Regions from separate parts of the Homo sapiens genome. Here region 1 is linked to region 2. Evidence: fine-mapped expression QTL. A gene starts in region 2. The other region holds a variant in brackets. All regions are shown on one strand. Distances are between the middles of the regions.

Region 1 (4,400 bases), 500 kb before region 2:
TTTGGGAGGCCAAGGCGGGCGGATCATCTGAGGTCAGGGGTTTGAAACCAGCCTGGCCAACGTGGCGAAACCCTGTCTCTACTAAAAATACAAAATTAGCCTGGCGTGGTGGCGCATGCCTGTAATCCCAGCTACTTGGGAGGCTGAGGCAGGAGAATCGCTTGAACCCGGGAGGCGGAGGTTGCAGTGAGCCGAGATCATGCCATTGCACTCCATCCTGGACAACAAGAGTGAAACTCCATCTCAAAAAAAAAAAAAAAAAGTGCCGGAAACTCAAAGAACCTATGAAAGGCCAGAAAGTCGGTGAGGTTTGTTTATTGTGTAACCACAAACATCACCAAAACCACAGAGAGGACTGCTCAACCTATGATGCCACTGAGCAGACACAATATTTGACATAAACACTACAGTTTGAACAGGTGACACTGGGGACCAGATATTAGAATATCTGCTGCTGCTCCTGCTCCTGCTGGTGCTGCTGCTGCTGGGAGACATCTCTACTGCCATTCTCACCAAAAGGAGGATTTTACATACTTCTGGTTCCTCACTTACCCACTTGCAAAATGATGTTCTATACAGGTGTGCCTGACTGGCAAAGGCTAGGTCTCATGTCTGTGCCTTAACTGCACTGGATCCTTGAAAATGGAGCTTTGGCTTCAACTTGGAGAAGCAAAATTTATAACGTGGGAAATTCTCCAAACATGGGAATATTGTTCAAAAGATGCTAGGTGGCCATAAAAATAAATGAACACTGTATATACTACTGTGGAGTTATCAGAATTTAATTGCTAAAGTATAGTTTCTAAAAAGCTGAGAGCAAATATACAACGAACGCATCGAAGTTTAACTCATTAATTAATAAGGGATCAGTAAGATTAAAGTCAGTTCAAATAAGAATTTGAGGCCGGGCATGGTGGCTCATGCCTGTAATCCCAGCACTCTGGGAAGCCGAGGTGGGTGGATCACCTGAGGTCAGGAGTTCGAGACCGGCCTGGCCAACACGGTGAAACCCTGTATCTACTAAAAATGCAAAAATTAGCTGGGTGTGGTGGTGTGCATTTGTAATCTCAGCTACTGGGGAGGCTGAGGCAGGAGAATCGCTTAAATCCGGGAGGCGGAGGTTAGAGTGAGCTGAGATCGCACCACTGCACTCCAGCGTGGGCGATGAAGTAAGGCCGTGTCTCAAAAAAAAAAAAAAAAGAATTCGACTGACAGAGATCTACATTCTCTATTTCTCTATTCAGTGAAATCTACAATACAAAATTTATTTGCATTGCCATGTATAGGGATCATTTGCATAGTTATCAGTTTTTTACAACTTAACTCTAAAAAGAATCAAACAATTCCTGTAAAGGTCCACTAAATAATACCCAGCACATCACTGAAAGGACACCTGCTAATGTCTTTCGCCTGAATAATTTTTCTTAATAAAATGTTAAGTGATTGACTAAAACAAAAAAAATGCTAAGTGAAAAAAACAAGATAGAGAAAAATATGTGTAATATGTTAGTGTTCACTTAAGATGAAAGAATATTAATATATAGGCATATTTGCATATTTCTAAAAATAGGAAGATAAACCATAAATTTTTTAAATGATTACCAATTAAGGAAAAAAGGAAATCGTGTAAAACAGACAAAAGTAGAGGCTAGAGTTCTTTGAATATACCTCATTGTGATGATTTCACTTTGGATCCACATAAATGTTTTACATAATTATAAAATGAAATTACATAAGTGTAAAAAGCAAGCCCTAAAAGGAAGAAGTGAAATGAAACAAATAAACCTGTGTATGGAGGTGGAGCATAACCATACAGGGAACTATTCCAGGTGACTTCAAAACACAGTAATTGACTTACATCGTTAGCGACATTTGGCTTAATGGAGAAAAACCTGTCCCCCTCCACTTTAAAACCTCTAATTTGTTTTCATTAACAATCTTATTGGCGTAGGCTTGTTGTTGTTATTCTGCAATTTTACAGGATAAATTAAACAAGTACTTGAGTTGATATTTTAGAGAACCCAGATTTTTTAAGCATGTTTGAAAAGAAGTGCAGATATAAGATTGATGGGGTGAGTAAACCCTATAGTCTTGAATTTGAATTTGAAGTATCAGTGTCAGCTTGTGATTTATTTAATTTTTTTAAAAAAGATATTTCTTAGCTCTAGCTACTGAAAAGGCTTAGCAACAATGGTCAATCTGCTATCCCAAACACTGCTAGTTCCTAGATTATGGTATTTAAACATTGTTTCCACTAAAAGGAACCAGAGCTCCTTGGAGAAATGGCTGATTCCAGGTCTGGGGCAGGAATTGTTCAAGACAAACCTGCAATAGC[C/A]TGTCATATTAGAAAGAAAGGAAGCTTTTAAAGAGTACTAATATTATGCCAAATATACAAACTCTGTCTGCACCAAAGAGCCAGTTTGAATAAATTCCTACAGACCAAAAATGAGACAATATGAGTATCAATAAGGATAAAACTGGAATGGATTGAAACACATCAAATATGTTTAAATCCATGAATTCATAATGATATAAACATAACTCAATGGTTTCACAATATATGGAGCTTATTTAAATCTCAATTCAAACAAACTATTAAAAAATGTATAAGACAGTCCAGAAAATGTGAACATTGATAGGATGTCTGATGACATTAAGAAATTATTGTCTTAATTTCTTATGACAATAAAGTGGCTCACACCTGTAAACCCAGTACTTAGGGAGGCTGAGGTGGGCAGATTACCTATGGTCAGGAGTTCGAGACAAGCCTGGCCAATGTGGTGAAACCCCATCTCTACTAAAAATACAAAAATTAGCTGGGTGTGATGGCACATGCCTGTAATCCCAGCCACTTGGGAGGCTGAGGCAGGAGAATCGCTTGAACTCGGCAGGCAGAGATTGCAGTGAGCTGGGATCACACCACTGCACTCCAGCCTGGGCAAGTGAGTGAGACTCTGTCTCAGAAAAAAAAAAAAAAGAAAATTATTGTTCATTTATTTTAGATGTGATGATGGTATTGTGGTATTATATTTGTTTAATAGTCTCTGTCTTTTAAAGACACACACAGGGACATTTACGTATGAAATGACAGAATGTCTAGAATTTATTTAATATAATTCAGGTAGTGAGAGTGGGAATATAAATAAAATAAGATTGGCCATGTACTGATCATTGTTGAAACAAGACAATGGTTTCACGGCAGCTCATTTTACTACTATTTTTACTTTTACATGTGTTTTAAATTTTCCATAAGCAGTATCTTTTTAAAAAAAACTGTATGGCTACAAACACAAACATGTCTACTACAGCTGAGATGAATCAACATTATAATGATGTTACTTCTCCCTAAATTTATGCATATATTCAAATAAAAACTCTAATAGCCAGATGTGGGGGCTCATGCCTGTAATCCCAGCACTTCAGGAGGCCAAGGTGGGCAGATTGCTTGAGCCCAGGAGTTTGAGGCCAGCCTGGGCAACATGGTGAAACCCCTTATCTACAAAAAACAAAAAACAAAATCAGCCAGGCATGGTGGTGTGCACCTGTAGTCCCAGCCACTCCAGAGGCTGAGGCGGGAGGATCACTTGAGCCCAGGAGGTCAAGGCTGCAGTGAGCCATGATTGCATCACTGCACTCCAGCCTGGGTGACAGAATGAAACCCTGTCTCCAAAAGAAAAAAGCAAAAAACTCCAACAGAGTTTTTCAGGGAACTTGATAAACTGATTCAAAAAATTCATATAAAGAAGAGTTAACAAGTACAAAATACAAAGACAATGTTTAAAAAGAAGAACAAAGATAGGGTGGCCTAGATGACTTGCCTTACCATACGTGGAGACATATTACAAAGCTGTTTTAATTAAAACTGTGTGATACTGAAGTAGCAAAAGATAAAAAGAACAGCTTCATGAGCTCAGAAACTGACCTATCTATGTATGAGAATTTGGTGTACAATAGAGGTAGAATCAAAATTGGAAAACAAAGAAAATAAGCTCCCTACGTCATACCATACACAAAACTAAATTCCAGGTGAATTAAACACCTAAAAGCAGTAGCCATAGAAAAGATAAATAAAACACTCTCTGAAAGTATAAAAATAAGATGAGTGTATCTTTATTACATTTGGATGAGGAAAATTTTCTTATACAAAAACAGTATAGATTGATTATACGGAAAAGCTGAATAAAATGTTCTACCTCAACATAAAAAAATTTCATATAGAAAAACTCACTATAAACAAGACTAAAGGACAAGTGGAATTTCATAGGCTTATGCAAAGGAAGAAAAAATAAAATAAAAGACAAGTGGAAGACTAAGGGAGGATGTTTTTAAGGGTATATAACTGTCAAAGATTAGAAGCCAGAATATATTTTTAAAACACATACACCTTGGCCGGGCACGGT
Region 2 (4,400 bases):
ACATGGTGACACCTTGTCTCTACTAAAGATACAAAATTAGCCGGGCATGGTAGCACACGCCTGTAGTCCCAGCTACCTAGGAGGCTGAGGCAAGAGAATAGCTGGAAGCCGAGAGGCAGAGGTTGCAGTGAGCTGAGATTGTGCCACTGCACTCTAGCCTGGGTGACAGCATGAGATTTGGTCTCAAAAAAAAAAAATTTTTTTTTCTATAGAGACAAGGTCTTGCTATGATGTCCAGGGTGGTCTTGAACTCCTGGGCTCAAGCAATCCTCCCATCTAAAAATCACTATCTGGAAAAATAACATCATCATGAGTCTTTTTTTTTTTTTGTGACGTAGTCTCATTCTGTCGCCCAGGCTGGAGTGCAGTGGTGTGATCTCAGTTCACCACAACCTCTGCCTCCCAGGTTCAAGCGATTCTCCTGCCTCAGCCTCCTGAATAACTGGGACTACAGGCAGGTGCCACCATGCCCAGCTAATTTTTGTATTTTTAGTAGAGACAGGGTTTCACCATGTTGGCCAGGCTGGTCTCAAACTCCTGACCGCAGGTGATCCACCCACCTCAGCCTCCCAAAGTGCTGGGATTACAGGCATGAGTCACTGCGCCCAGCCCATCATAAATCTTTTTTCATTTTTTTTTTTTGAGATGGAGTCTTGCTCTGTCACCCAGGCTGGAGTGCAGTGGCACGATCTCAGCTCACTGCAACCTCTGCCTCCCGGGTTCATGCCATTCTCCTGCCTCAGCCTCCCAAGTAGCTGGGACTGCAGGCACCCGCCACCACACCCGGCTAATTTTTTGTATTTTTAGTAGAGACAGGGTTTCACTGTGTTAGCCAGGATGGTCTCGATCTCCTGACCTCGTGATCCGCCCGCCTCAGCCTCCCAAAGTGCTGGGATTACAGGTGTGAGCCACCACGCCCGGCCCCATCATGAGTCTTGATAGGTTTTGTTCATAGCCAGATTTTTCTCTGACCCCATTGCTCTGCTTCAAAGTGAAGAGCAAAGTCTCAGAACTAAATATCCTGAAGCCTCTCTCCAGTTGGCTAAGGGCAAGAGCCTTTCATGTACTCACCATAACTGGGGGTGACTGTATAATAATAGACCACCTGATAATATTCATCCTCTCCCAGTCTTTCTTCATCCTCATATTCTTGTCCTATGGGGACAAGGACTAGAGGTCAAGGGACATCTGGAACACCTTACTAACAAAAGGACACCTGGAGATGACCTCAGCGCTCCCAGCTTTCTTGCTCTTTCTTTCTTTTCTCTCTCTCTCTCTCTCCTCCAATAGTCATACTCCTTTCTTGCCTGTGCACCTCTACACCCCTCTCAGTCTTCTGGGATCCATATCTGTAATGAGGCCTGTTACTCCGTGCCCTTTCAATCCAGGAACTCCTAAAACAGAAAACAGTCCCCTTCACATACTATAAACCCAAAGGGAGAACCAGACCTAAAAAAGGTAGGAAAAGTAGAGACCAGGAATTAAAAACGCCAAGTCTTCTATTTAGTATGCTCCAGATCTTACTGTATTTGTGAGACATCTTTTCTTATCAGTATCTCTTACAAATAACTAACATACACCCTTAGGCTTTGGATTTGAGCTTTAGTTCCACCTTCACTGCTAACAGAATAACCCTGAACAATCCACTTAACATCCGCTTTCTTAAAATGAGTCAGCTGGACTAAAATGACCCATCTCTGTTAGTTTTTCTTCCCTTTCAGAACTAAAAATATGTGGCTTTGATATGACTGGATCAAGAACTCCAGGCCTCCTGCTAAACACTTCCCTGAGCTCCTTGAATGCTTTCCCTTCAACTCCAAGCTAATGACACAAGAATCTAGAGGAAAAGGAAACAATGAGACACACCTGGTAGACTGGGGAACAAAGGAGGGAAGGAGCCAAGCTACTCTTGGGACCCTGTCCCTGAAGACAGCCAGTTTTCCACTACCCTAAAGGTCACCCCACTTCTGTGTCTTTACTAATAGCAGGTTTTTTTCTCCAATTCTCTGGGAAAGGAGATACCCTAACTACTAGTTTCAGACTGTGACACCTTCCAATAATCCCTCCTTCACCCTTACTTTAGCCCCTGTCATCTTGTTCAACTTCCGTGGTGATGGAGAACTGAGCTCAGTGTTGCTAGGGCCTCCTTGTGTCTGGAGCTCCATCCTCCTTGTTTGACAGGACTCTGCTTTTTTCCCCCTTTCCTGGCTCTGCCTTCCAGATCTCCATTCTGCCCTCAACACCGGACCCCAGCACGATGAGAAAACTCTATCGCTCCCCACTGAAATGTACCTCTCACCCACTCCTCATTTTTTTTCTCCCACCCCATTTATGGTAGAAGACCTGGCACAAAAGCTCAGAGAGAGGAGTGGACTTACCCAGGATAAGTGGCACAGCAAAGATGGCTACAAAGAGGACATCCATTCTGGATTCTGCACTATTGCTGTGAAAGTAAAAAAGGAAATTACAGAGTTTCCCACCAAACTTACCCCGCCTCCCCTCCTCCTCCAAAGCAGGGAAGGAGCTGCAGCAACTCTTCTCCTCCCAGGGGGCAGAACTCCCCGCCTACTGGCTGACTGACTAGATCTCCGGTTACTGCCGGTCCCCAGCCAGAGCTGCCCAGATTGAGAGGCAAAAGGGGGTTTTGATGCAAACATGTTTCTTAAGCTCCCCCTGCCCTAGATTAGATCCATTCAAGACTCCCACTGTCACTACCAAAATAAAAATAAAAAATAAGCCTACCAAGAAGTTTCCCCTCTCCCGGCTTTCCTTCCTTCCTCCAAGGCCTCATAAAAAGTTCACCCTCCCTCTCACTGTCTCTGACTTACCATCACCACCCAGAGTTGCCTTTCTCTCTGAGGCTTCATCAGTCTCTTTTCGTCACAGTGGAAATGTTCTGAGGAAGGGGTGAGCATTTTTCTAGACTGAAAAGAATCCCTTTCTTCTGTCTGTCTGGAGCTATAGAGAATAGGAACAATATTTACCCATCATTGTCTGACTTAAAGCACCTGCTGCATGGCTTCAGCTAAAAGTCTCTCAGCCATGGTCAGTTATTTCCTTTCTGGTAACACTGACCTCACCTCACCTCTTTGTTTTTTTTTTGAGACAGAATCTTGCTTTGTCACCCAGGTTGGAGTGCAGTGGCGCGATCTCGGCTCACTGCAACCTCTGCCTCCCGGGTTCCAGTGATTCTCCTGCCTCAGCCTCCCTGGTAGCTGGGACTACAGGCGCGTGCCACCATGCCCAGCTAAGTTTTGTATTTTTAGTAGAGACGGGGTTTCACCATGTTGGCCCAGGCTGGTCTCGAACTCCTGACCTCAGATGATCCACCTGTCTTGGCCTCCCAAAGTACTGGGATTACAGGCATGAGCCACCGTGCCCGGCCTCACCTCATCTCTTTCTCAACTTCCAGGATGCAGGTTGGAAGAAGGGAGAAAGCAGATAGTCTCTTTCCCTGCTACAGGTGCCACACCTTCCCTCCCACATTCAGTCACTTGGTATGTTCCCTTCATTCCGTCCTACAGGTGTAGAGTTTTTATCCTTTCCTCTGCTTTTATGTTTCCCATGTTCATTCAATTCAGAAACCCTTAGCAACATACGTGCTAGGCACAGTGTGCTAGGCCTAGTGTGATAGGCAATTGAGAGCTTATAGGCAAGGGAATAAGAAAAGACAGTTTTGCTTTGTTCTTAAGGGAAGTTAATAAGTATCTGCTCAACATCTACTATGAGTCAGGCACTATGCAAGTGTCTGTGGAAACACCCATGAACAAGATAGGTTTACAGCCTCCTGTCAATGGTCAGAAGATGCTGTGGTAACAGCTCAATGGAGAGATGAAGCTGGCCACAGTGGCTCACGCCTGTAATCCCAGTACTTTGGGAGGCTTAGGCGGACAGATCACCTGAGGTCAGGAGATCAGCCTGGCCAACATGGTGAAACCTTGTCTCTACTAAAAATACAAAAATTAGCTGGGCTTGGTGGCAGGCGCCAGTAATCCCAGCTACTAGGGAGGCTGAAGCAGGAGAATCACTTGAACCTGGGAGGCAGAGGTTGCAGTGAGCCGAGATAGCACCACTGTACTCCAGTCTAGGCAACAGAGTGAGACTCCATCTCAAAAAAAAAAGACATGAGAATTGTCTCATTCCTATCCACCTTACTCTGCCTGCTGGGCTCAGAAGCAGGACATACTGGAGTCTTGAACACAGGTCATGATAACGCTACCCTCTTAATTTTTTTTTTTTTTTTTTTGAGACGGAGTCTCACTCTGTTGCCCAGGCTGGAGTGCAGTGGCACGATCTCGGCTCACTGCAAGCTCCGCCTCCTGGGTTCACGCCATTCTCCTGCCTCAGCCTCCTGAGTAGCTGGGACTACAGGCGCCCGCCACCACGCCTGGCTAATTTTT

Direction of the effects. Alleles are on the strand shown, and positions count from the first base shown. SD is a standard deviation of normalised expression in the study named.
In carriers of allele A in region 1, the expression in hypothalamus of the gene that starts at base 2,452 in region 2 tends to be lower than with C alone (large effect, 1.2 SD a copy in GTEx).

What was found. PIP is the estimated chance that this variant, and not a neighbour inherited with it, causes the effect.
Region 1: its variant is the best candidate, but not a certain one, in a credible set for the expression of C1orf54 in hypothalamus (GTEx, PIP 0.68).

Annotation. Positions count from the first base shown.
Region 1 is chr1:150,767,055-150,771,454 of GRCh38, reverse strand. No RefSeq gene overlaps it. Among named protein-coding and RNA genes, the nearest start is that of CTSS, 3.5 kb to the right of the region's middle. RefSeq lists a silencer at 347-466. The variant C/A (reference allele first, on the strand shown) is at 2,336.
Region 2 is chr1:150,270,842-150,275,241 of GRCh38, reverse strand. It overlaps C1orf54 (chromosome 1 open reading frame 54), which reads right to left and starts at 2,452. Exons shown (of 6, transcript NM_024579.4): 1 at 2,379-2,452; 2 at 1,072-1,155. The coding sequence starts at 2,424. The region is part of intron 1 of LOC124904414; the gene reads left to right.